Linked DNA regions of Homo sapiens. The protein of the gene in region 4 interacts with the protein of the main gene of each other region in a pairwise test. Each region holds a gene or a part of one and is shown on either strand. Other genes may lie near its edges. The genes, in order: ZC3H15, RWDD1, SKIL and DRG1.

Evidence for each region.
Region 1: the proteins of DRG1 (region 4) and ZC3H15 interact in binary tests that used the Homo sapiens proteins (3 or more experiments, as listed by UniProt).
Region 2: the proteins of DRG1 (region 4) and RWDD1 interact in binary tests that used the Homo sapiens proteins (3 or more experiments, as listed by UniProt).
Region 3: the proteins of DRG1 (region 4) and SKIL interact in binary tests that used the Homo sapiens proteins (3 or more experiments, as listed by UniProt).

The regions. Positions count from the first base shown.
Region 1 is NC_000002.12:186,503,249-186,509,879, forward strand, and holds the end of ZC3H15 (zinc finger CCCH domain-containing protein 15), read left to right. Parts: intron 1-783; coding exon 784-966; intron 967-2,202; coding exon 2,203-2,349; intron 2,350-2,491; coding exon 2,492-2,593; intron 2,594-3,464; coding exon 3,465-3,588; intron 3,589-5,294; coding exon 5,295-5,485; 3' UTR 5,486-6,113; downstream 6,114-6,631. UniProt on the Homo sapiens protein: Protects DRG1 from proteolytic degradation. Stimulates DRG1 GTPase activity likely by increasing the affinity for the potassium ions.
Region 2 is NC_000006.12:116,567,636-116,574,520, reverse strand, and holds the start of RWDD1 (RWD domain-containing protein 1), read right to left. Parts: upstream 3,018-6,885; 5' UTR 2,939-3,017; coding exon 2,866-2,938; intron 2,100-2,865; exon of another isoform or gene 2,043-2,099; intron 1,664-2,042; exon of another isoform or gene 1,536-1,663; intron 464-1,535; exon of another isoform or gene 350-463; intron 1-349. UniProt on the Homo sapiens protein: Protects DRG2 from proteolytic degradation.
Region 3 is NC_000003.12:170,360,693-170,367,721, reverse strand, and holds part of SKIL (ski-like protein), read right to left. Parts: coding exon 6,293-7,029; intron 1-6,292. UniProt on the Homo sapiens protein: May have regulatory role in cell division or differentiation in response to extracellular signals.
Region 4 is NC_000022.11:31,402,585-31,409,613, forward strand, and holds part of DRG1 (developmentally-regulated GTP-binding protein 1), read left to right. Parts: intron 1-444; coding exon 445-620; intron 621-7,029. UniProt on the Homo sapiens protein: Catalyzes the conversion of GTP to GDP through hydrolysis of the gamma-phosphate bond in GTP. Appears to have an intrinsic GTPase activity that is stimulated by ZC3H15/DFRP1 binding likely by increasing the affinity for the potassium ions.

The DNA.
Region 1 (6,631 bases), on a different chromosome or scaffold from region 4:
TACAATTGTATCTTCTATCCATGTTGTGAAGGGTCACTCTCTTTGTGTTCCTTTTGTACCTTGCTCCTGTATACTGCTTGTGATTCATTTTTATTTAGGAAAGATCAAACCAAAGAAAATCATTTATTCTATTTATTTTATTTTTGAGGCGGAGTTTTGCTCTTGTTGCCCAAGCTGGAGTGCAGTGGCGCAATCTTAGCTCACTGCAACCTCTGCTTTCCGGGTTCAAGAGATTCTCCTGCGTCAGCCTCCCAAGTAGCTGGGGTTACAGGCATGTGCCACCACGGCCAGCTAATTTTTTGTATTTTTAGTAGAAGTGGAGGTTCACCATGTTAGCCAGGCTGGTCTTGAACTCCTGACCTCAGCAGGTGATCCGCCCGCCTCGGCCTCCCAAAGTGCTGGGATTATAGGTGTAAGCCACAACGCCTGGCCTGATTTTATTTTTTATAGCTAATTGTATATTCTGATTCGGGGGCGTACATTTACAAAGGGTAACTGAAACAAGTAAGTCATTTTCGTATGATTTAGAATTTAGAACAAATGAAAACTGTATAGATTCCCCTTTAAGGGAATTTGCCATTGTTCTACATATTTTAAGATAAACTTCTGTTGCATTTCTGCACAGAATAGAGGCTAGACAGAGCACCCTTATGTGCAGAAATGAATAGAATGTACTTGTGTAATATAACGTACTTGTGTGTATACTTGTTCCATATACTCAGGCATTTACCTTGGAAATGGCCTACACTGAGCCACCGCTTGTGAATAATATTGTCTCTATAGGTGTGCAAGCATTTCCTGGAAGCTATTGAAAACAACAAGTATGGCTGGTTTTGGGTATGCCCTGGAGGGGGTGATATTTGCATGTATCGTCATGCACTTCCTCCTGGATTTGTGTTGAAAAAAGATAAAAAGAAAGAAGAGAAAGAAGATGAAATTTCATTAGAAGATCTAATTGAGAGAGAGGTAACTGGTATCCTTTTCCTACCATAAAAACTGAAAGCAGTATTTATTGTGAAATTCTAATACTTACCACTTGGGGCAATAGCCTTTTATGAAAGGAAAAAAAAAATATTGTGATCTATTCCCAAAGTTGCCCTACTTTAATTATTCTTGTATGTGTAAAATGTTAACCTAGCCATAAACATTAGCCAATCATGACATTAATTTTAGGATTGTGAAACAGTCTTTTAAGTACTAGCTAATGGCTTATCAAATTATTTCTGTAAGATTGAGTTACTAAAAATGCTTAGTTCTCAGATTGGTTGAATTTTTATAGTTTTAGATTTTTCGCCCTGATATCTTTTTTCACTAGTATATTAGTTATTAGCATATGTACGGAAGAAGACAACACTCTAGTTTTTAAATTATATGTTTTATCAGCTCTGGACTCAAAACACTCACTCTGCTTATAGAAGGGAATGAGTCTGAAGAGGATATTCAGCTACTTGTCTTTGGCTCCGTACAAAACACAGTTTTATTCTATGAAAATTTTGAGATTATTAGAAACATTAGATTTAGGGTTGCATATTAAAAACTATATCCATTTTGCCTTATTATTTAGTGTCTCACTCAGGATATAACACACTATAATAGAAAATGTAGACTTCAGAATCAGGTATATTTGAGATGGTTTGTATACTGGTTCTGACACTTGTTAGCTATTCATCTTTGGTAAATTCCCCATTACCCTTTGTTCACCTATTTGTGGGGATCAGTGCATAGTGTGTGTAAAGCATTTAATACCTGGCAAGTGTTCAGCAAATTTTTTGTTCTATATATTTATTATTTGATTATTGGCCCTGAGGAGTAGGTGTTTGTTTGTTTGTTTGTTTGTTTAGTTTTATTTCTCATCTTCTCAGGAACACAAATGAAACTTGGATATTGTTATGGTGCTTTTTATAATATATTTATTATTTTCAGCAATTGATTCATGTTAAAACAATTTCTTATGACAAGTTACTCATCTTCAATGGTGAGAAGAAATCTAGCTCAGAATAATATATTTTTAGTGTTTGTATCTCTGGATACTCATTTTGCTCATTGCCACGTAAAGTAAAAAAATACATAAATTAGCTTATTCCAATGTAATATCTTCAGGATAGTCATGGGCAAGGAATTAATCACATTAAGAGATAACTGCAACTAAGCACTATTTGAGGTGACTTCTGTGGAAAAAAAATTAATTCTTTACCATTGCAGCGTTCTGCCCTAGGTCCAAATGTTACCAAAATCACTCTAGAATCTTTTCTTGCCTGGAAGAAAAGGAAAAGACAAGAAAAGATTGATAAACTTGAACAAGATATGGAAAGAAGGAAAGCTGACTTCAAAGCAGGGAAAGCACTAGTGGTATGTCTCAGGCTCACCCAAACTGATTCTTTATTCTTCCATTTTCAATTTCTGTGTCATGCAAGATTTTGTTTCTATTTCATCAGTGACAAGGAATGTTTAGATTTTTGTCCTGAGTTGATATATTTGTGTGTCTCAATAGATCAGTGGTCGTGAAGTGTTTGAATTTCGTCCTGAACTGGTCAATGATGATGATGAGGAAGCAGATGATACCCGCTACACCCAGGGAACAGGTGGTGATGAGGTAAGAGGAAGCTTTGTGCCTCATCTCCTTATGTTAATTGAAAGAAACAATAGAAAATACCACAACATGGTTAAGAGCCACCAACATCAGAGCCACAGTGCCTGGGTTCAAATCCTTACTCCAACCATGGGAAATTAATCTAGGCCTCCACCCTCATCTAATATGGACATAATGATTATCTCTACATCATAGTTTGTGAGAATTAATCGAGTTCATGAATTAGTAGTTCTTTATACAGCTTAGGACAGTGCCTAGTATGTGGTTGAGTGCTATATGTATTACCTGTAAAAAGTATGTTTTGTCCTCCCTCTAAAAGAGAGAGTTATTTTTTGGTTAATATTTTATGCTTAAAAGTTATGGGACAAGTGCACTAATTTAAAACTGCAGTGTAGGGAGCATGAGACAATAGCACAGTCATTTGGTTGTTGACAGATTTAGTAATAACAGATAACTTACTGTTGATTTTTTGTGTACTTACAAAATTCTGGCCTCTGGGTTGAAAGAAAAAAATTGTACTCTATATATAAAAATGTGATGGCAGAGGAAGAAGTTTCATATACCACCTTGCTATTCTTTTTAAACGAAGTTTAGAAAAAATAATTTTGAAAATAGATCTTTTGTTTTTGTTTTTTATAGAGACAAGGTCTGGCTTTGTTGCTCAGGCTGGTCTCAAACTCCTAAGCCCAGGTGATCCTCCACCTCGACCTCCCAAAGTGTTGGGATTACAGGTGTGAGCCTCCACACCTGGCCAGTAATTGGTCTTTTGTTTTCACTTGGATCAGTGATAATTTTGGCTCATTAAGATAAATGTCAGGAGTAAAAGAAAACTGTTCTTATTTGTAACAACTTTCTTTTCTATATGTTGTTAAAGGTTGATGATTCAGTGAGTGTAAATGACATAGATTTAAGCCTGTACATCCCAAGAGATGTAGATGAAACAGGTATTACTGTAGCCAGTCTTGAAAGATTCAGCACATATACTTCAGATAAAGATGGTAAGTATGCTAACTTTTGCCTAATTTTAAGAACTAGGAAGTTATCTAAAGGGGGTTATACCAGGCTTGGCAAACTTAGATGTGTGCAGGTACCAGATTGGTAACATAAATGTGTGGTTTGACCATAAATAAAAGCAGTAATAAATAGTGAAAGGCTGTAGACATGAGCAGCTGGGTGTATATTAAAATCATTAATGGAAACTAGAAGGAGACAAAAATGAGCTTGGAGTTAAAGTCAATGAGTTCACTTCGGGACCTCATGAGTTTGAGATTTTTTGATTATCAAAAGTGCACTGTCTAGGATATTGTGTAGACATGAACACCCTACAGAACATCAGTGTTATGGGGTAAGTAAAAGAAGAAATGCTTAGGAAAGACATTGAGAAGGTCAGAGAAAAATCAAGAAACAAGTTTCCAAAGAAGCAAGTAGGATGAAAAAGAATATAAATAAGTTACTGGTTGTAATTGGTTATAGGAATAGGGTGCCAGTTTCATTGAGACTGCAATGATAACGGTGAGAAGAAAAATGAATACAGTCCTCTCTCTCTTAATGTTTAGAGGGAAGACATGGTCATGGGAAGGGCTTTTTAGGATATGGAAAACCTAAATGTATCTGTAGCTCAGAGGAAGAGGATCTGGTAAGGAGGAGAAGTTGATGATAAAAGATTAGTTATAGAAGCAATACATGAAAGTATAAATAATGAGTTAGGTATGAGAATGGAGGGAAGGCTGTCTAGGATTGTTGGTATAATTTATGTCTAATTGTGCCTTGAGTTAGGTACTTGAAGAAAGGGGTAAAAGTTTGGCATGCTTGCTCTGGGAGAAAACAGCAGAAGAAATGCCCATTAAGGCAAAAGCTGAGACAGAAAAGGCTGAACATTATTTTTACAATAAAAGCACACAAGCTGTAACTTGAAAAACCAGCTTGCCCTCCCAAGATCTGAGAGTGTTAGCAAACCACTATCTTGCCAGTATTCAGATTGACTTGCTCTTTGTAGAAGTAGGGGCTTTGGTGACAATAGGCACAACTGCAAATAATTCAGAGATTATAAAATTCCCAAGACTTTGTCATCAGAGATGTTTGAAATAACTAAAATCTAAATTAGGCTGTTAAAAAATGTCTGTGTAATTGTCAATGGCATTGAACAAGAAAAGGCAGCATTTTTTTTCTCTCAGTTATTTATAACCTATAAGAAAAAGTAGCTGTATAGCACTATGTTTTTTTTTAACAATTTGATTACATGATGAAGATTTTCTGCTGTCACAATCACAGCATTACAACAGCATGATTTAAATACTATTTGCAAAACCAAAAGCCAAGTAGCTGCTTATATTACAAACATTTTTTTGGTTTCCATAACCATTTAGTCAAATAAAATATTATATGGAAATTGACTATTTAAAATCTAATTGCTAGGTCATGTAGGGAACACAGAGGTGTAGAAGATTGATCCTGCCCTCAAATGTATAAACCATTAAGTAGTCAAATGGCTACAGTGAAAAACAGTATTTTATAGTAGGTATAGATAATTGGCACAGATAAGCTCAGAAAAGAATGATCAGTTCTTGCTGGAGTAATTCTGGGGAAATGGCTTTCATGGAGAAAAGGAAAAGAGGAAGTGTAGTATCAGTCTATGTTGTCTATTGCTAATGTGGAATGGTGTTTTCTGCTTCTACGCCTTACTGATTCCAGTTTTTATATTTAGAAAACAAATTAAGTGAAGCTTCTGGAGGTAGGGCTGAAAATGGTGAAAGAAGTGACTTGGAAGAGGACAACGAGAGGGAGGGAACGGAAAATGGAGCCATTGATGCTGTTCCTGTTGATGAAAATCTTTTCACTGGAGAGGATTTGGATGAACTAGAAGAAGAATTAAATACACTTGATTTAGAAGAATGACACCAAACACATCGCTGAAAAAATTAAGTCAGCTCAGCACGAGTTGAAATTGACTACATTAATTTCTTTCCACCTAGAATCAACAGGATGTTTATTTCCTATGCTGATTCTGGAGGAGTTAACCTCCTGCAAAAAAGGCATCTTGTCCCTACATCTTCTCTTCTGACTTTGGCTACATCTCATAGTAAGTTCAGAGTAGTTCATGATAAATTGAAAATATAATGGTCATTGCAGAAAATGATTGATGTTGTAACTGTCCACCCAAGTAAGAAGTGTATCTGCCTTTCCATCTTTTGGTTTTCATTTGGGCATGTGCTATTACCAGAAACAACAAACTTATATTTAAAATACCCTTCATTTGACACAGTTTTTAATGAGTGATTTAATTTCCTCTGTATTTGTATGTTTAGAAGACTGCCTAAAACATGAGCACTGTACTTCATAAAGGAAACTGCGTATGCAGATTCAGTATTGTGTATCTTTGGACAATTAGATGGACATTTAAAATGGAACTTCTTTTATCTGACAGGATCAGCTACAATGCCCTGTGTTAAATTGTTTAAAAGTTTCCCTTTTCTTTTTTGCCAATAAAGTTGTAAATAAAGACCATCATACATTAAAATCCAAATATGGGCCTTTTTTTAAGTTTTTCTATGAAAAATTTAACATTTCTAGCTTGAGAATTTTAAATACCTGTTATAATATCACATAGGCATGTTTTCTTAATATTTACTACAGAAGCATCTAGAGTACTTGACAGTACTACAATGAGTTTAATAACACAAATACTAAGCTTCCAAAAAGAGACTTTAGGAGATGTTATATAAAAGAGTAACTTCTGAATTGATACAACATCAACCAAATTAAATATCACCTGCAGTTGAATCAAGTAATGCTTAAGAATTGTTTGTTGAGATTCATGGTGTTAAAATAGTACATACTACTGTAAGTATAAACAAATTCACCAGAAAACTTTGGGCTGAGGGTCTTTGGCACTAAGAGCCCCTGAAAAATTAGGGTGATAATACATTTAAAATGGACACAATTTGCTAATGACATATTTAGTACTAGCTACACCTTTTTTATTGTTATGTTTTGTATTTTCAAATAATATGTTGCTTTTGTTATTTGCGAATATAAATGGAT
Region 2 (6,885 bases), on a different chromosome or scaffold from region 4:
TACACAAATTACCTTTAGTTTCCACAAAATACGAGAGAGCCCATATTAAAATAAGTACCTCTGGTTGTTAGGGAGTGTCTGACCTTTCAAAAAGTATGACTTAGAACAAACTGCTTTTACAGGACGACTTCTTACCTATCTCAAGATACAATTATAACTGTCAAATGTGAATGGCTGCTGCTTAGAGGTACTGACAAAGAAATACAGGATTATGTACTCCTCTTTGTAAGGCAAACAGAATTAAGGAAACTTGGCTTTTGGTTAACCTGATGCCAACAAATGCGTTTCAATAAAACTCCCCACAGCCAGAGATTTCAATACATAAATTGAAATAACCAAATTCTACTACCTTAGCAGGACCTTGTCAAGTGAAGCACTACTGAAGGAGAATGTGGTATCAGGAGAGTCCATTTATATTTTGGAAGACTAGTTGTTAGGAGGGTTGGATCAATGTGCAATCAAGCTACAGAATAGGCAAAAAGAAGAAATTGTATTATGATTTGTTATAATCACAACAAATGCAACACTGGACCAAAACTTCTTTGCAAATAGTCAAAGCAATTAATTCTGAGGTTAGGCTAAATCTATGTGCCTAGGTCTATAGGCTGGACTGTGTCTCTTCAGCATCCACATGGGGTCACGTGTACTTAACAAATGCTTCTTTGTCAAGCACTCAGTCATCCATTAAAAAAAAAAAGTATATCTATTTCCTTCATTAATAGTATTGAGCATTAACCAAATTCAATAATTAAATGTGATTCAAAATGAAGTTACAAAACTCCCATTTAGTGTTCCTTGGCCAACCGACACAAGCAAGATCTCTTTCTTAAACCTGGCATGAGAATACAAAAGTATGGAATCATAAATACAAAAGAAGGCTATAAAACAGAAAATCTTGCAAATCTCCAAGATTTTAAAAGATCAAACATGGAAACATTTTATTTCAAAGTCCTCTGCCTTTTCCCCAAGAGTTTTCATAAAGAACATGATCACTAGGAAGGCAAAGTTCCCTAAGAACTATAAATAAAGACACCTCATTTTAATTTATTTATTGCAAAGCTTGTAGAAATGTTGACAGGAGTTAGAGACAGATGGCTCATCTGATAATGCAGAATACCTGAATGCATCAAAAGATTCATAAATTGTCTTTTATTACCCTGGCTCAGAATCCTCAAGCACTTGGGCATCTGATAAGAATTTCACATAGCGAACTATACCAGAGCTGTCAGGGCCTAGTACAATTTGAAATACCCACAAGATTATTTCAGGGTTAAAAACAAAAAAAGATATCAGTTTTATAAATGCTTATATGCATAGGATTTAGCGAGGGATAGCTTATGTCCAAAGAAATGAAAAGAATAGCACATCCTGCTGTCTTGACTCTGCCTACAGTGTTCATACCTAGTATGTTTCCAAAGTACTGGAAATGACCAAACATGATTAAGAATATATCCAACAACTGACCCTATATTCTATTTTAGACATACACATATAAGCAAGGATAGAGAAGGGAGCCAGACTCCATACACACTCACCCAGTTAATGACACTCTCAAACCCCTCTTCACTCATCCCCTTAACATCCTCACAGCACAGATGTACTGCTGGTGAGAGAGAACATGAACAGGACTGGAGCTATACAGGGATAGCTGAGAGACATCTGCCTGTTGGCAAAGCAGAACAAAATTTGCTACCATTGCAAGCAGTGGTCAAAAGGTGAAGCCAAGAAAACTAAGCTAAACAATGAAAGGGAGAGGGGTTGGAATTTATAAGTTAAAGTAATATACCTTACACTATAAATTCTGACTATCAACGATAGGCAACACTCAAAGGAAAGGATGGGGAATGTAAATGCACACACCTAGGTTCTACTCACTCATATTGGCTTTATTTGACCGCTTCTCAAATCTCAGAGGAGCCATATTGATATAGTTATGTAGCATTTTTATAATCATCCGAAGCATGGCTTAATAGAGAAATCTCGTCCTCTAAATTATACCTAATGAACTTCTCATTATAATATTTTACATTAGCCCAACCTACCAAGTAATCTTCTGCTCTCTCAATCTCAGCTGGAGCTGAATCCCAAGTCCCATATGTCTGGAAAGTGAAAGAACAGGCAAGCGTTCTGGACGTATAACTCAGTACCAGCCCTGCCGCTAACTCGCTGGCGGACAGTACAGAGCAAGCCACTTAGCTTTCCTGAACCCCCATGACCTTGGCTTGGAGCAGGAGCCCCAGGATAGATGATGTTTAATCTCCCTTCCAATCTAACAACCTATGAATTTATAGCAGAACGGAAATTTGGGCCACATTATCCATTAGGCATTCTGCTGAATGCCAGATTTTTTTTTTTTTCATAAGAAAAGAAACCCGACAGACTTCAGGGACTATGCTACTCTCAAAACCGATTTGAGTAACTGAAAACAGCACTCTGAATCCTATAAACTAAAACAGCATCGTATGAAAAACAGTTTCTACCTTAATAAAGCTAAAAATGTGAAAACTAACATTCTTGCGGCTGTGGAAAAACGAATCGCACTTGGAGTATTTTTTCTCTTAATGTATTATAAATCTCAGGTTGCTGTAGGTTACACAGAAACCAAAGTAATCCCGACTCAATTTTCAGGCCTGACACCCTCCAACATCACCCGGACTTTTAGATTTCCGGGAACAAGCAGAGAAGGAGAAAAAGTCACTGGGTTGCTGGTAAGTGACTGAAGAACTTGAGGAGTGGAGGGCAAGGTGGCCGCGCGGCCTCAAGGTCCCCTTCTCCACCCCAACCTATGAGGCCCAGAGCTGCGGCAGCTCCTGCCCGTCCTACTCCACCTCGGGGCGGCTACAGGCTTGCGGCCGCGGGAGTCACCTGTGAAGGAGTCAGGGTAGATGGACTCCAGGGCCTCCAGCTCGTTGCGCTGCTCCTCGCCGTAATCTGTCATCGTGGCCCTTGCTCTTGCCCATAGATCGCCCAGACACCTAGGCGGCGCGCAGCAGCCCAGACAGCTGCCGCGCCGGGAGAGCGGGCGGCGGCCAGGCGGGCGCAGGCGCAGAGTCCCCGGCTGGAAGGCCCAGGGCCCAAAGCCAGACCCGGCTTGCTTAACTGCAGCTCCGCGCCGGCCTCCGCCTGCTCCCTACTTCCACGTTCGACTCGTTCTGCCTGGCCAGGGGGCACTGATTTGCTGCCTGTCCCACACTCGCTCGGGACTTGCTGGGACGGTGCGCGCGGTCTGGCATTCGCCAAGGACACCTACAGCCGGCTCCTGGGCTTTGCAGGGCCTGAGCCTTAGAAGCCTCTCAGCGCTGCATCCTCGCTCGATGAGTCTGGGCTGAAAGGCCGGCATCGCGCGTCAGTGAAGGATAGTGTCGCTGGTGGCCGGGCTGGGGCGAGGGGCGTCCGATGCCTTCACCTTTTCTGGTTTCCGGTTTGACGCCGTGGCGTAGGTGCTGCGGGCTTGCAACCTAGTGTGGACTGGTGGGGCTCAGGAGATTTCTGAGCTTCTCGAACTCCGTATTGCTTGGCGTCCTACGGGAGTTGGACGAGAGGCTGGGACCAGTGTAGATTCCACTGGGCAGGGGAGCAAAAGCTCTGCACTGCCTTGAATGAGTATGGAAGGGTCGGTCTAACTGCTTAATAAGTCGGGGTGGATCCAGGAGGGAGAAATAGACCGGAGGTCCGGCTTCTCGGTTCAGATCTTTAGGCTTAACTTCTGATTTTGTGAAATGAACGCAGCTGGACGTATGATAGATCTCAAGATGTCTGTGATTGTGTATTTGTGAATTGATGAAAGGAATGTAGATCTCAGTAATAACAATTATCATATGCAATGTAAAAATTGCAGTACCCCGAGAAATGTTGAGAACCTTTAATTTGGTAATACGACTTCCAAGAATAAACTTGAGCAAGTAGCATGCATCTGTGATCTCCAAAATCATTGCAGCAATTACAAAGAAAATTTTCAAAGAACCATGATGGCAAAAGCTAAGAAAATGGCTAAATAAACATGGTTAGCTTTATGAAAATGATATTAAAAACTATGGTAACAATAATAAAGGATCCCATGTTCCTTTATTATATTATTGCGCTAAGTCGAAAAATGGAAAATTTTAAGAAAATACTCAAAAGCTGTTGCCCACTTTTCTGTATTTTTCTTTGTTTTGATTTCTCTGTATTAAAGCTGGTTTCACTGGTATAGTGGGAGGAACACTTTTTAAATGAAAGATTCCTAATGATGAAGCCCCTGAAGCACCAGAAGGCACCTTGATCTTTTATTGAGGAGTGCTGCTTACCTATAGCAGAGGAACACTTTGATACTGATTCCGTGTTTACGGTATTAAGGGTTGATTTCAGGCGTTCTTTTAAACTTTAATGAAAAAGTGGAGTCTCCTAACTATGATGACAATCAAATAAAATACATAAAGTAACTTTGCAAGTATAAGTTGCTCATTTTTTTTGGATCGCCTCAGTTCAGAGGAATTATACTGATTTATTATGAGGAAAGAGCTGCCAGAGGAAACAGCTAGTGCATTAAGTCCTAAGTGGGGAGTCAAGGATGATTTTTGGCTGGAAGAACTGGAAAGACGAAGTTCTGTTGACCAAAATAAGTGAGGAAGACAGAATCAAATTTGGCAAGGAAGGTGGCATTACATCTTTAAATGACTCCTAGATGAAAGAAAATCAAGCAAAATTAAGTTTTTTTCTCCTAACAGAATAATAAAAACAACCTACCAAAAGAAATGAGATGCAGCAAAGCAACAAACATACAAGGTTTACGTTAGAAAAAGGTTACTTTTGGTTGCCAGTTGCAATCCAGTAAATGTACCTCTTTATTTTCATTCCTATTTCATTAACAAAATTTTTGGTAAAGCATCCTTTTCAAACCTTATGTATCACTGTAAATAAACCCTACATGCTTCAGAATGCTCAAGAGTGTTACTTTGATACTGGAGATGGCTCTTGTAATCAAGAAAACACTTCCGCAAATCTTTGTCACACCTACATAAGCATTATTAAGCATTTTTTAGTGGATCTCTAATTTCATTTTGACCATAACACATGCTTAACACAGCACAGCAAGTCCCTTAACTGAAATTGTGGAAAATTCTCATGAGGCAAATTGACTTTCTTTTAGTGTTTCATTTTTAATCGGTAGGTAGAGATGTTACAGACCAAGTGTTTTAAGCTCTGCAGGTAGGCAAATGGTGTGAGTCACTGATATGGTTTGGCTGTGTCCCCACCCAAATGTCATCTTGAATTGTAGTTCCCATAATCCCCACGTGTCCTGGGAGGGACCAGGTGGAGATAATTGAATCACAGGGCCGATTTTTCCCATCCTGTCCTTGTGATAGTTAGTTCTTATGAGATCTGATGGTTTTATAAGGGTCTTCCTTCTTCGCTGGGCACTCATTCTTCTTCCTGCAGCCATGTGAAAAAAAGGATGTGTTTGCTTCCTCTTCTGCCATGATTGTACGTTTCCTGAGGCCTTCTCATTCATGCAGAACTATGAGTCAATTAAAACTCTTTCCTTTATAAATTATCCAGTCTCAGTTATTCCTTCATAGCAGGGTGAGAACTGACTATTACAGCCATCATAGGATCTGGAACCAGAAGTGAGAAGCCCAGGCTTAGTCATTTGCAAGATACATAAGCTTATAATTCAGATGACATGAAATAATGTGTAAGCATGTTGTGTAAACTCCATATAAATATTATTTACTGGTAATTAAATTCATATACCATCTTGTAAAGCATTGCTATTCTCTGTTCATCTTTATTGCTAATGAAATTGTCCCTAAGAGATTCATCTTATTTGTATTCTTCTTAGTTTCTTCTGCAGGTAGTGCATATTAGCAGTTGCTGTTTACTAATGCTATCAGCCTTTAAAAATTATTTTGATGTTTATTTTTACTTTTCTGTGCCTGTGAGTTTTCTAGGCAATCACACTACTCTCAGAAGCTCAGTGTTGAGAATTCCCTATTTCATGCTTAATTTTAATTATCGAACAGTTCATGTGGCTAATGTTTCATTTACTCAGGTATCTCAAAGACTTTACCAGTCACAAGCACAAAGAGCCATATAAAATTTTAATTTTGTGTACTCTGAACAGAAATATCTTCAAGGGTAGTGAATCTCAGTAATACTTTCCAGCCTAACTCACTTCCCTGGCCTGCAGTCTACTGTGAGTCAACACAGAAGCCAGAGTGGTTCTGTTACAATGTAAACCAGTCCATATCACTCCTTTGCTCATAACTGCCCCATCCTCATCTCAGATTAAAACCATGTGTTTATAGTATAGGTCCTAGAGAATCTGGCTTCTTGATCCTCACCCTCACAGCTCTTCTTTCTCTGCCTTAGTCTGTTTTCTGGACTAAGCTTATAACAGAATACCTGAAACTGGGTAATTTTATTTCCTACAGTTCTGGAGTATTGGAATTCCAAGGTCATGGGGGACATTTGGTGAGACCTTCTTGCATGTGGGGACTCTGCAGAGTACTGAGGTAGCACAGGCCATCACATGGCGAGGGGGCTGAGTGTGCTCACTCAGGTCTCTCTTCTTATTCTACTCCACTACTCCAGCCATACTAGCCTCTTTGCTGTTCCTCAAGCATGCAAGGCAGGATTTCCTCGTAAGGTCTTTGCACTTGCTGTTCCCTCTGGAATGCCGTTCCTCCCATACCCATATGTGTCACCTCCTCCCTTCCTTCAAGTCTTTCCTCAAAGGTCACTTTCTAAATGGGGTTACCCCAACTCGACCACCCTACTTAAAATTACAACCACTCCTAGCACTACCTATCCCCTTTAACTCATTTTTCCCATGCTTCTTTAAAATTACACTATTTATTTATTATGTTTATACTCTTTCTCCCTGTAGTAGAATGTAAGTTCCAT
Region 3 (7,029 bases), on a different chromosome or scaffold from region 4:
TGAGGCTGGTGGATTGCCTGAGATCAGGAGTTCGAGACCAGCCTGGCCAACATAGTGAAACCCCCATCTCTACTAAAAATACAAAAAATTAGCTGGGTGTGGTGGCAGGCACCTGTAATCCCAGCTACTAGGGACACTGAGGCAGGAGAATTGCTTGAACCTGGGAGGCGGAAGTTGCAGTGAGCCAAGATTGCGCCATTGCACTCCAGCCTGGGCAACAAGGGCGAAACTCCATCTCAATTTAAAAAAAAAAAAAAAGGGTATATATAGTTCTTAACTTAGTAAAGTGGAGACTGTCAGCCACATGCTACAATAGGGAAGAATCGGCCAGGCGCAGTGGCTCACGCCTGTAATCCTAGCACTTTGGGAGGATGACGACGTCAGGAGATCGAGACCATCCTGGCTAACACGGTGAAACCCCGTCTCTACTAAAAAAATAGAAAAAATTAGCCAGGCGTGGTGATGGGTACCTGTAGTCCCAGCTACTCAGGGGGCTGAGGCAGGAGAATGGCGTGAACCTGGGAGGTGGAGTTTGCAGTGAGCTGACATCGCGCCACTGCACTCCAGCCTGGTCAACAGAGCGAGACTCTCGTCTCAAAAAAAACAAACAAACAAACAAAAAAAGTGAAGAATCACCTACAACAAATGACCACTTCCAATATGTTTGAAAATAATCTTAAGTAAACATTACTCTTCAAATTTTATTTACAAATGATTAATTTGCCTGTTGATCTTTTTTTCATACAAACGTAATATTCAACAAAATTAGAATTAGATCAAATTTATTTTAATTTTCTATTTTTGTTTACATATATTTGATCTACTTCTGATTTTGCTGAATATCCACTGAAGATGTGAAAAAGAATCAGGAATGTGATGTTTGCATGTATTTATACAGTTTAAAGTAAAATAATGATTATTCCAATAAAAAACACAAAAAGCTCGTATCAGGTAAGTAACTTGACAACATTCTGTAGAACAACATAGGCAGATCTAAAATCAAGTATGTGTGTGTGTGTGTGTGTCTGTGTGTGTGTGTGTGTGTGTGTTTTGAGACAGAGTTTCACTCTGTCACCCAGGATGAAGGGCAGTGTGAACTCGGCTCACTGAAACCTCCACCTCCTGGGTTCAAGCCTGCCTCAGCCTCCCAAGTAGCTGGGATTACAGGCGTGTGTCACCATCCCCTGCTAACTTTTGTATTTTCAGTAGAGATGGCGTTTCACCATATTGGCCAGGCTGGTCCCGAACCCCTGACCTCAGGTGATCCACCCAACTCAGCCTCCCAAAGTGCTGGGATTACAGGCATGAGCCACCGCGCCTGGCCTAAAATCAAGTATATTTCTTATGGCGACTTGAGTAAGAAAGAGTTATTAGCTATATTTAATTAAGTTGTCTCATTTCAAATTATTTATAATTTACAAGATACTACAACTTATTAACATTAAAATGTATTAATATATTACATATTTTATAATTGTAAAATAATTAAGTTGTTTCATTTCGAACAACTTACTGAGTTTCAGGACTTTTTTTAATCCAAAAGCAATACTTTGATTACATAAACTATATACGCATGTCAAATCATGTCAGTATTCACACCAAACATCAGGTCCTTTACATAACACGTTAATATATTTAGTACAGTCTTAAAAAAAAAAAAAAAAAAGGCCAGGCGCAATGGCTCATGCCTGTAATCCCAGCACTTTGGGAGGCCGAGGCAGGTGGATCATCTGAGGTCAGGAGTTCAAGATCAGCCTGGCCAGCATGGTGAAACCCCGTCTGGACTAAAAATAAAAAAATTAGCTGGGTATGGTGGCAGACGCCTGTAATTGCAGCTACTTGGGAGGCTGAGGCAGGAGAATCGCTTGAATCCAGGAGGCGGAGGTTGCAGTGAGCCAAGATCGCGCCATTGCACTCCAGCCTGGGCGCAAGAGCGAAACTCCATCTCAAAAAAAAAAAAAAAAAAAAAGCCTAGTTTGACTTTTTAAAATGAGCTCCCTCTGGGTCAATTTGGCTTGTTTGGCAACCAACTCAATGACTCACAGAAGAAAATAAAAACTGTTCCTCAGTCAAGGACTATCTCATTCTCAGTTAAATACCTTAGTATTTAAATTTATATGCAGGTTAAAACAGAGTTTGAGAACCATCATAGAGGCTGAATATCCCTTATCAGAAATGCTTGGGACCAAAAGTATTTTGAATTTCTGATTTTTTCAGATTCTGGAATATGTGCACGATATGGCAGTTGAGCATCCCAAATCCAAAAATCAAAATCTGAAATACTCCAATGAGCATTTCCTGTGAGTGCCATGTCAGCATTCAAAAAGTTTTGGCCTTTAGAGCATTTCAGATTTTGGATTTGGGATGCTCAACCTGTACTAAGGTAAATTGATAAGAAAAGTTAATGTTTCTCAAAATTCAGTTTCTGCTACTAACATGTGCTTCAGGGGCAAATAGTGAAAAATTACTAAACTTCGAGTTAGAAGCCCTGTATTCAACTCCTGATTCTGGTTATACAACCAGGAGCATGTGACTCATCTAAGAGGTGGAAATATTGTCATTCACCTTCCTCACAGACCCTAAAAAATAAGTGTACTTCACAATGTTCTGAGTACGTTTTTAAAACGTGAAGTGGTAAGCATAATAAAACAACCACTCAAGTACGTATTAAATATGAACCAAAGAAAAGAATCTTTCTTAAAGTATGGGTGTTTGAAATTTTCTTAAATTCCTTTAAATTTCTCAAATTCACATAAAATTACAAGCAATATCAAAATACACCACAAACACTAATTCAAATACTGCAAAATATAACACAGCAAAAAGATCAGAAAGAAACTCACACCTTCCTAAAATCGAAAATGTATTCAAATCAGTGAATTCTGGGACAAAAAGGGATTACATCCCAGACGAAGGATGGTTTCAGTGTTAACCAAACCTCAGCACATTGTTTCAGTTAAGTAAATTAATCCATCATCTTTTTTTTTTTAAACCTTTATCATGGTTCTCAGATGTTTTTCACATAAACACAGAGCAAGAATATTAGGAAAAGTAGTTTATCCAAAATACACTTATGTCAGACTAATAATTAGACTGGGGCGGGCCAGGCGCCATGGCTCATGCCTGTAATCCCAGCAATTGAGAGGACGAGGAGGTCGGATCACCTCAGGTCAGGAGTTAAGACCAGCCGGCTAGGCTGTAAAATCCCATCTCTACTAAAAATACAAAAAACAAGCTAGGCATGGTGGTGGGCACCTGTAACCCCGGCTACTTGGGAGGCTGAGACAGGAGAATCACTTGAATCTGGGAGGTGGAGATTGCAGTGAACTGAGATCGCGCCATTGTACTCCAGCCTGGGCAATAAGAGCGAAACTCTGTCTCAAAAAAAAAAAAAAAAAAAAAAAAAAAAAGACGGGAGCAACAATATCTGGCAAATGTGGCCTCCAACAGACATGTAAGAGTAGACCACCACTGGGCATGGTGGCTCACGCCTGTAATCCTAGCATTTTGGGAGGCAGAGACAGGCGCATTGCCTGAGCTCAGGAGTTCGAGGCCAGCCTGGGCAACATGGTGAAACCCCCTCTCTACTAAAATACAAAAGAAATTAGCTGGGCATGGCGGTGGGCGCCTGAAGTCCCAGCTACTCGGAAGACTGAGGCAGGAGAATTGCTTGAACCCAGGAGGCAGAGGTTGCAGTGAGCCGAGATCGTGCCACTGCACTCCAGCCTCGGCGACAGAGCAAGACTTGTCTCTACAAAAAAAAAAGTACAGCACCTAATTAGCTTGGGGGCAAGATATCACAAATATCAAAAGGGGCATTCCACATTTTGAAATATAATCTCTGAGCACAAACTTCAGCACGGGACAAGTCCAACTGTAAGCAAGTTCTACACTGAGCACTGGCTTGAAGTCAATCCTGATTTAAAATTAGTTAATAGGCCGAGAGCAGTGGCTCACACCTGTAATCCCAGCACTTTGAGAAGCCAAGGCGGGTGGATCACCCGAGGTCAGGAGTTTGAGACCAGCCTAGCTAACATGGCGAAACCAGTCTCTGCTAAAAATAACAAAAATTAAAGGGTGTGGTGGCTGATGCCTGTAATCCCAGTGACTCAGGAGGCTGAGGCAGGAGAATCACTTGAACCCAGGAGGCGGAGGCTGCAATCTGCCAAGATCGCGCCACTGAGCTCTAGCCTGGGCAACAGGAGCGAAACTCTGTCTCAAAAAAAAAAAAATCAGTTAATAACTACACCTGAAGAATATAAACTTATCTAGCAGCCACTGGCAAGAAATTTCAAAGTGCTGGTCTTCTGGAAGCAGCAAGCAGCAAACTACCATAAATGAGTCTAAAATTATTATCTTCATTAGGCTTAACCAATGTCTTAAACTACACTGTTAACTAAATTTCCCTCAAAACCTTAAAGGCACCAGAATAAAGCTCAGGATCCCAAGTCTTAAGGACTAGTCCAAGCTCTAACTTTGCTGTGAATAAACCTTCAGTCAGTCATTTAATATGCTTTATTCATTTCTTCTGTAAAATAGAAATGGGCAAGGATATTTCAAGGAATCAAAACTAATAGTGGAAAAATTCAAAGTTCCTAAATGAAACACAGCCAACCTCTTGTTAAGAATTAAATAAAATTATATATGTAAAACTGCTCAAGAATAATGTTTGCCACATTTTAAACACTTAGTGTTAGGAACTGTTATTACACATTAATTTTAGTCAAATAGGAAAAAATATAAAACAACCCGATCAAGAAACTAAATATTTAATAATCCCAATCTTGTCCATTACCTCGGCATTCAAAACCTTGGAATGAAAATAATAGTTTAGCCTACTAGATAATGCAGCAGGAAAAATAAAATTATGATACCTTGGCTGATAGGTGGTTGTGTTTTTTTTTTTTGAAATGGAGTCTTACTCTGACGCCCAGGATGGACTGTGGTGGCGTGATCTCGGCTTACTGCAACCTCCGCTTCCCAGGTTCAAGCGATTCTCCTGGCTCAGCCTCCCAAGTAGCTGGGACTACAAACACACACCACCATGCCTGGCTAATTTTTGTATTTTTAGTAGAGATGGGGTTTTACCATGTTGGCCAGGCTGGTCTCAAACTCCTGACCTGAAGTGATCTGCCCACCTGGGCCTCCCAAAGTGCTGGGATTGTGAGCCATTCATTGCTCCCACCTGTTGATAGGTTGTTTGTTTGTTTTGTTTTGTTTTTTGATGGAGTTTCCCTCGACGCCTACGCTGGAGCGCAATGGCACAATCTCGGCTCACTACAACCTCCGCCTCCGGGGTTCAAGCGATTCTCCTGCCTCAGCTCCTGAGTAGCTGGGATTACAAGTGTGCGACACCACATCCGTCTAATTTTTGTATTTTTAGTAGAGATGGGATTTCACCATGTTGGCCAGGCTGGTCTCAAACTCCTGACCTCAGGTGATCCACCTACTTCAGCCCCCCAAAGTGTTGGGATTACAGGTGTGAGCCACTGAGCCCGGCAGGTTTTTATATTAATATTTTATTAGTTTAAAATAACTTTTCCTTACTCTAGCTGTCATTTTTTTTGTTATTCCTTTCAAATCACAAATTCTTCAGATACATGTCTTTTCCATTTGTTTCAAATATTGAGCAAGCCTGAATATCCAAACATAGAAACATCAGAAATCATAGGTGTATCTCTGAAAAATGCTGTTTTGAGCCCACGGGAATTGTGGCCATTGTACCATTTGCAAATGGAGATAACACCAAAGCGCAAATTATCGAGTCCTAGAAAAACAACAGATGTAGTGGTCAAGAAGCAAGATGTGTGCCAAAGAGGATAAGAAAAAGAAGCCCTGGCTGGACACAGGGGCTCAAGGATGTAATCCCAGCCCTTTGGGAGGCCAAGGTGGGCGGATCACGCGGTCAGGAGTTCAAGACCAGCCTGGCCAACATGCTGAAACCTGGCCTCTACTAAAAGCACAAAAAAAAAAAAAAAAGAAGCCCTAACTCCTCCACTCCCTGGCTACATAATTTTGGGAAAGTCATTTTATCTCTCTGAGCTTCATTCACTTTATCTGTAAAACGGAATAATAGTCTTACTTCTCTCACAGGATGTTTGGAAAGTCAAATGAGGAAACATACTGCAAAGCACTTTATGGCCTAAAAACTGCAATACAAATATATCAATCGGTATTTTGTTGTTGTTGCATGAGCAATGTTCAACATACAGGTTAAGTTACACACTAAACATAGAATTTTCATTTCAAAGTAAACCATTACCATTATTAAAAATTGATATAAAAAACTTGCCTTGGATTGATTTCTCTTTCCACTTCTCATGCTAAACTTCTCCTTCATTTCTTCTAAAATTATCTTCAGTTTCTTTTCTTCAGGTGTTCCTAAGTATTTTTGGTTCACATGAAGATAGCAATGCCATTTAGCTGATTCAAAGCCCCAGTGGCAAGTTCTTTTGTCAGGTGATCTGTGAGAATGCATCACAAACGTCTGGGGTGCAAACATTCCACAACACTCCAGACATTGAATACACGGAGCATCAGGCTGAACATAAAACTGGGGTGCAAATAAACCCTGACATTTGCCTAGGCATTCATGCTCCACTTCAAAGGCACTGCCAGTTTCCTTTAACTGGGCCAATGAGCTTTTAGCAGGAAGTACGCTACCATTTTGAGGAAAAGTTCGTGGCCGCAATAAAGCATTACATAATCTTTGTGCATCAGTTAATGTAATCAGCCCACAGGATGGGGCATTGAATGGAAGTATGCCCAGTACCTTTAAGATATGAAGCTGGTCTGAAGTACACCTTGAACAATATATGTACAGTTCATCACACACTGTATTTATTTGCTGGAGTGTAAATTCTCGGAGAACAGAATTTAAGACTTGGGGCAAACAGAGTCTCTTTTCTCCTCCAACTTGAAAACAAGAAATAGATTCCCCTTCCAACACAGTCTGAGTGAGTTCTGTGGAGCTATCTGAAGGGATGAGCAATGGGCCAGGAAGAACCTGAGGTGATGGAAGAGGCAGAA
Region 4 (7,029 bases):
TGCAGCCTCAACCTCCTGGGCTCAAGCGATCCTCCCACCTCAGCCTCTGAAGTAGCTGAGACCTACAGGCATATGCCACCATGCCTGGCTAATTTTTGTATTTTTTGTAGAGACAGGGTTTTGCCATGTTGCTCAGGCTTGACCTGAATTCTTGGACTCAAGAGATCCTCCTGCCTCAGCCTCTGGAATAGCAGGGACTATAGATGTGTGCCACTGTGCCTGACTTTTTTGAATACAGTTTTTTTATATCAAACACTGCATTGAATTTTGTGAATTGCTGTGCCCTCAAGTTTTGTGTGCTTTAGTTCTCCTTTAAAGGTAAACCATAAAAAGTTTGAGAAATAGTGCCTAGAGGGATAGGCAGTAAAAATGTGAAAGAAGTTATATGAGTCTTAACACTCTGGGGGATAACTCTCCTCTTTTTGGTATTCATTGATGTTTTAGGTTTTGATGTGGCCAAGACAGGTGATGCTCGAATTGGATTTGTTGGTTTTCCATCTGTGGGGAAGTCAACACTGCTTAGTAACCTGGCAGGGGTATATTCTGAGGTGGCAGCCTATGAATTCACTACTCTGACCACTGTGCCTGGTGTCATCAGATACAAAGGTGCCAAGATCCAGGTGAGTCAAGCCTGCAGACTAAGGAAGGAAAGAAATCTATTCTTCATTTAGGAAGAAGTTTATTGGGAGCTCACTGTATGCCAGGCCTGATCTTTGATCTACCAGGCACTTACTACCTGGTAGGGGAAATAGAGCAGTACGATAATAAAATGGGATAGCGCATGTGAAAATGCAGAGAAAGGGCCGGGCGCAGTGGCTCACGCCTGTAATCCCAGCACTTTGGGAAGCCAAGGCGGGCAGATCACCTGAGGTCGGGAGTTCGAGACCAGCCTGGCCAACATGGAGAAACCCCATCTCTACTAAAAATACAAAATTAGCCGGGTGTAGTGGCACATGCCTGTAATCCCAGCAACTCGGGAGGCTGAGGCTGGAGAATCGCTTGAACTACTTTTTCACCTGAGGGTGGGGGCTGGGACTACAGGTGAGCACCACCATGCCGGGCTAATTTTTTGTATTTTTAGTAGAAATGGGGTTTCACCATGCTGGTCAGGCTGGTCTCGAACTCCTGACCTTGTGATCCGCCCGCGTTGGCCTCCCAAAATGCGGGATTACAGGTGTGAGCCACCGCGCCCGGCCCCCTGGTTGTATTTTTAATGACCCTTTTTCCAGCTGGTCAGGTGCCCATGCAGAGACACATGTCCCTTTCTGGGATCCCGTGTCCAAATGTATATAACAAGAATGAAGCAGTGTGGACATATCTGGACCATGGCTTGATTCTAGCTGGTTTCAGAGTCTTGTTGAGAGTCACAGCTTTGGCAGCTCAAGAGAATAACTTTTTTTTTTTTTTTTTTTTTTTGGTAGGATGCTATTGACACCTCTCTCAGGACTTTTGAGTATTTCAAAATAGAGAGTTGCTTAACTCCTCTCCTCTTTCCCAGAAAACCTTCACTCATTTCAGTGTCTTCTGACCTTAGAGACCCCCAACTTTTTTTTTGCATGGTGCTCTCTTTCCTCCCTTTGTCCTCTGCCTCTGTTTTTCATCCTCTTTTGGCTTTCTCCAGAAACTAAGTTATGTAAGCTTACTAGTGGGTATCCTTAATCTTCTTTTTTTTTTTTTTTGAGACAGAGTCTGTCTCCCAGGCTAGAATGCAGTGGTGCAATCTCAGCTCACTGCAATCTCCGCCTCCTGGGATCCAGTGATTCTCCCGCTTCAGCCTCCCGAGTAAGCTGGGACTACAGGCACGCACCCCCATGGCTGGCTAATTTTTGTATTTTTTTGTAGAGACGGGGTTTCACCATGTTGGTCAGGCTGGTCTCGAACTCCTGACCTCATGATCCTCCTGCCTCAGCCTCCCAAAGTGCTGGGATTACAGGCGTGAGCCACCGCGCCTGGTCTCGCCTGCTTTAACTTCTAAAGGCATTGGAGTTTGAAGTAGTTTAACATTTAATTCCTTAAAATTGTGTAATTCCATGTTTTTTTGTTTTGTTTTGTTTTGAGACAGCATCTTGCTCTGTCTCCCAGGCTAGAGTGCAGTGGCATGATCTCGGCTCACTGCAACCTCCGCCTCCAGGGTTCAAGCAATTCTCCTGCCTCAGTCTCCTGAGTAGCTGGGATTTCAGCCACATGCCACCACACCCAGCTAATTTTTTTGTATTTTTAGTAGAGACGGAGTTTCACCATGTTTGCCAGGCTGGTTTTGAACTCCTGACCTCAAGTGATCTGCCCACCTTGGCCTCCCAAGATGTTAGATTACAGGCGTGAGCCACTGCACCAGGCCCCATGATTTAAATAAATATTTTTTTTTTAGGTTTTGGTTGGTTGTAACATGAAATTCGGATATATAAAGCATTGACTTTTTATTGAATGTTACTTATTAGGCATTGACTATTTTATTGAATGTTGTTATTGAATGTTGAATTATTAGTTGCTACATTTAAATTCTTCAGCCTAACTTTTAAAATATTTCCCTCTGAAGAAAAGCTAAATTTAGGTTGCCTTTACTTTTGTAGAGGCCTTAATAAATTTTCTTTTTTTTTTTTTTGAGACAGAGTCTTGCTGTGTCACCCAGGCTGGAGTGCAGTGGCGTGATTCGGCTCACTGCAACCTCTGCCTCCAGGATTTAAGTGATTCTTCTACCGCAGCCTCTCAAGTAGCTGGGACTACATGCGCATGCCACCACACCTGGCTAATTTTTGTATTTTCAGTAGAGACTGGGTTTCACCATATTGGCCAGGCTGGTCTTGAACTCCTGACCTTGTGATCCACATGCCTTGGCCTCTTAAAGTGGTGGGATTATAGGCTTGAGCCACCGTGCCTGGCCGGGCCTTAATAAATTTTCTGCCTGTGTTCAGCTGCCACAGTTAGAAAGCCCTTGCCCTTTTTCCCTCAGTTTATTCATTCTCTCTTTCAGATGATCTTTTTGAAGTTATAGTCATATTCCAGTTTTGAACAGTTTTAGATTATTCATGTAGATTATCCTTTTGAGTTCTTGCTAACATCAGTTAGGCTCATACTGTTGGGCATGTGTGTGTGTGTGGGGGGGTTTATTTATTTTTTTATTTGAGACGGAGTCTTACTCTGTTGCCCAGGCTGGAGTGCAGTGGCGTGATCTTGGCTCACTACAATCTCCGCCTCCCGGGTTCAAGTGATTCTCCTGTCTCAGCCTCCCAAGTAGCTGGGATTACAGGTGCCCACCACTATGCCCAGCTAATTTTGTATTTTTAGTAGAGACGGGGTTTCACCATATTGATCAGGCTAGTCTCGAACTCCTGACTTCAGGTGATCCACCCGCCTCGGCCTCCCAAAGTGCTGGGATTATAGGCGTGAGCCACCATGCCTGGCCGTTTCTTTTTTCTTTTTTCTTTTTTTTTTTTTTTTGAGACGAAGTCTCATTGTGTTGCCCAAGATGGAGTGCAGTGGCACAATCTCGGCTCACTCCAACCTCCTCCCGGCTTCAAGTGATTCTCCTGCCTCAGCCTCCTGAGTAGCTGGGACTATAGGTATGTGCCACCATGCCCGACTAATTTTTGTATTTTTAGTAGAGACGGAGTTTCACTATGTTGGCCAGGCTGGTCTTGAACTCCTGACCTCATGATCTGCCTGCCTCGACCTCCCAAAATGTTGGGATTACAGGTGTGAGCCACTGCGCTTGGCCACTTACCTGCTTTTTGTTACTGTAGATTAGTTTACATGTTAAGAACTTTACATAAACAAAAACCACATATAAATATAAATGCACTTTCTTTTCCATAGGCTTCTTTCATTCTGCATAATTTTGCATTCATGTTGGTGAGCTTTTAATTCTCTCTCGTGGTCTTTTTTTCTCTCATTTTGTATAAACTTTTTGAGCTTGGCCAACATGTTGAAACCCTGTCTCTACTAAAAATAAAAAATTAGCCAGGCATCTTTAATACCAGCTCCTAGGGAGGTTGAGGCAGGAGAATTGCTTGAACCTGGGAGGCAGATGTTGCAGTGAGCCGAGATCGTGTTACTGCACTCCAGCCTGGGCGACAGAATGAGACCCTGTCCCGGAAAAAAAAAAAAAAAGTTGCAAACATAGTACAAAGAGTTCTCGTATCACTTGCCTGCTTCTCCTGTTGTTAACATCTTACATAACCATAGAAAAATTATCAGAGATAGATGAACATTTCTGCAACAGTATTCACTAAACTATAGATCTTATTTTAATTTTTACCTGTTTTTTCCACCAGTGTCCTTTTTCTCTTCTAAAATTTTTATCTAGGATCATCCCATGATGCATTTAGCTATTTCTGTCTATTTGTTTGCCATCTGCAGTAGTCTCTGTCTTATCTTTTGTGACCTTGTCACTCTCAAAGAGTAATGATCAGTTATTTTGTATAATGTTCCTCAATTTGGGTTTGTGTGATGTTTTCTCTTGGTTAGACTTATTAGGTATTTTTGGCAAGAATACCACAGAAATGATACTGTCTTTCTCAGTGCCTCCTACCATGGGATTCATATTGTCAGTATGTCTTATTGGTGATATTGTCCTCCATCAATTGGTTATGGTTGTGTCTGTAGGGTTTCTCTAAAGTTACCTTTTTTTGGACAGTTAATATATATTTTAGGGGAGATACTTCAAGAAGATGCAAATCCTGTTTTTCCTCAAACTTTTGCCTGCTCATTTTCGCATCCATCTGTGGGTCTTGTCTGTAACAGTTATTATTGTACTTTTGCCTCATGGTAATTCTCCCTCGCTCTGTCACCCAGGCTGAATGCAGTGGCACGGGTACGATCATGGCTCACTGCAGCCTCGACCTCCTGGGTTCAAGTGATCCTCCCACCGTAGCCTTCCAAGTAGCTGGGACTATAGGCATGCACTACCATGCCTGACTAATTTTTTATTTTTTTGTAGAGACAGAGTCTCAATATGTTGTCCAGGCTGGTCTTGAACTCCTGCACACAAGCAGTCTACCTGCCTCAGCCTCCTGAGGTGCTGGGGTTATAGGCATGAGCCACTGTCCTGGGCCTGAGTATGTTCTTTTGTTTGTTTTATTTTTATTTTTTATTTTCATTTTTCTTTTTTTTTTTTTTGAGTACGTTCTTGAATGGAGAAGTTGAACTGTCTCGCACCTGCTAAATCAGTTTTCATTGCAGTTTATTTAATGCAAAGTATATTTCTGTAATTTCTTATATTCTTAGAGCAAAGCATATCTGATTTAAATTATGTTTTGGTCAGGCGTGGTGGTTCAAGCCTATAATCCCAGCACTTTGGGAGGCCGAGGTGAGCGGATCACCTGAGGTCAGGAGATCGAGACCAGCTTGGCCAATGTGGTGAAACCCTGTCTCTACTAAAAATACACAAAAAAAATTAGTGGGGCATGGTGGCGGGCACCTGTAATCCCAGCTACTCGGGAGGCTGAGGCAGGAGAATTACTTGAACCTGAGAGGCAGAGGTTGCAGTGAGCCGAGATCACACCACCGCACTCCAGCCTGGGTGATGGAGCGAGACTCCCCTTTTTTTCCTTCTTTTTTTTTTTTTTTTTTTTTTGAGATAGAGTCTTGCTTCATTGCCCAGGCTGGAGTGCAGTGGTGTGATCTCAGCTCACTGCAACCTCTGCCTCCTGGGTTCAAGCAATTCTCCTGCCTCAGCCTCCTGAGGGAGCTGGGATTACAGGTGCCCGCCACTACGCCCCACTAATTTTTTTGTGTATTTTTAGTAGAGACAGGGTTTCACCATGTTGGCCAAGCTGGTCTTGATCTCCTGACCTCAGATGATCCGCTCACCTTGGCCTCCCAAAGTACTGGGATTACAGGCTTGAGCCACCATGCCCAGCTGAGAATCCCTATGAAAAAGCAAGGCCAGACACTGTGTCTCATGCCTATAATCCCAGCACTTTGGGAGACTGACGCGAGCAGATCACTTGAGGTCAGGAGTTCGAGACCAGCCTGGCCAACATGGTGAAAACTTGTCTCTACTAAAAATACATAAAAAAAATTGGTGGGGCATGGTGGCGAGCACCTGTAATCCCAGCTGCTCAGGAGGCTGAGGTGCGAGAATCGCTTGAACCTGGGAGGCGGACATTGCAATGAACCAAGATTGCACCACTGCACTTCAGCCTGGGCGATAGAGCGAGACTCATTCTCAAAAAAAAAAAAAAAAAAAAAAAGATATTTTAAGTGATGTTTTAATAAGCTGCATCTGTTTTCAGTTCATTTATGTGTATAATTCAGTATTTGCCATACAGTAGACCCTTGGTATTTTTAGATTTTATATTTGTTTTAACTGTTTTGACTGATTCTTAAGGGCAGTCAAATTAATAGTTTATAATTTTGCTGAGATGTAAATTTGAATCACATGTGCTGTGGGGTTGGTTTTTCAATCACATCATTAGGTACACTGAGTTCTGTGAAGTTTTACCTTACTGCATTTCCTGGGCAGTTGAGCAGTCATTTTTATCTTTTTAAAATCTTTTAAAATTTATTTATTTATTTTTATTATTTTTTGAGATGGAGTCTTACTCTGTCGCCCAGGCTGGCATAATCTCGGCTCACTGCAACCTTCGACTGTCGGGTTCAAGCCATTCTTGTGCCTCAGCCTCCAGAGTAGCTGGGATTACAGGTGTGTGCCACCATACCCGGCTAATTTTTGTATTTTTTGTACAGACGGGGTTTCACCATGTTGGCTAGGATGGTCTCGAACTCCTGAGCTCAAGCAATCTGCCTGCTTCGGCCTCTGGGAAAGTGCTGTGGAATTATAGGTGTGAGTTACTGGGCCCAGCCTGAGCAGTCATTTTTTACTGGGGACATACATCAGAGTCACTTGTAAAGCCTTTTGAAGTACAGATCCCTATCTGTTGGCCCTTCAAATCAGAATCTGCAGGGATGGGTTTCAGCTCTCTACATTTTAAAAGTTTTTCCAGGTGATTCGGTTGTGCCTGCTTAAGAACGGCTACAAAAATTTTTGTGAGTTGGGGATTTGCAGAAATTGCAATATGTATCATATGT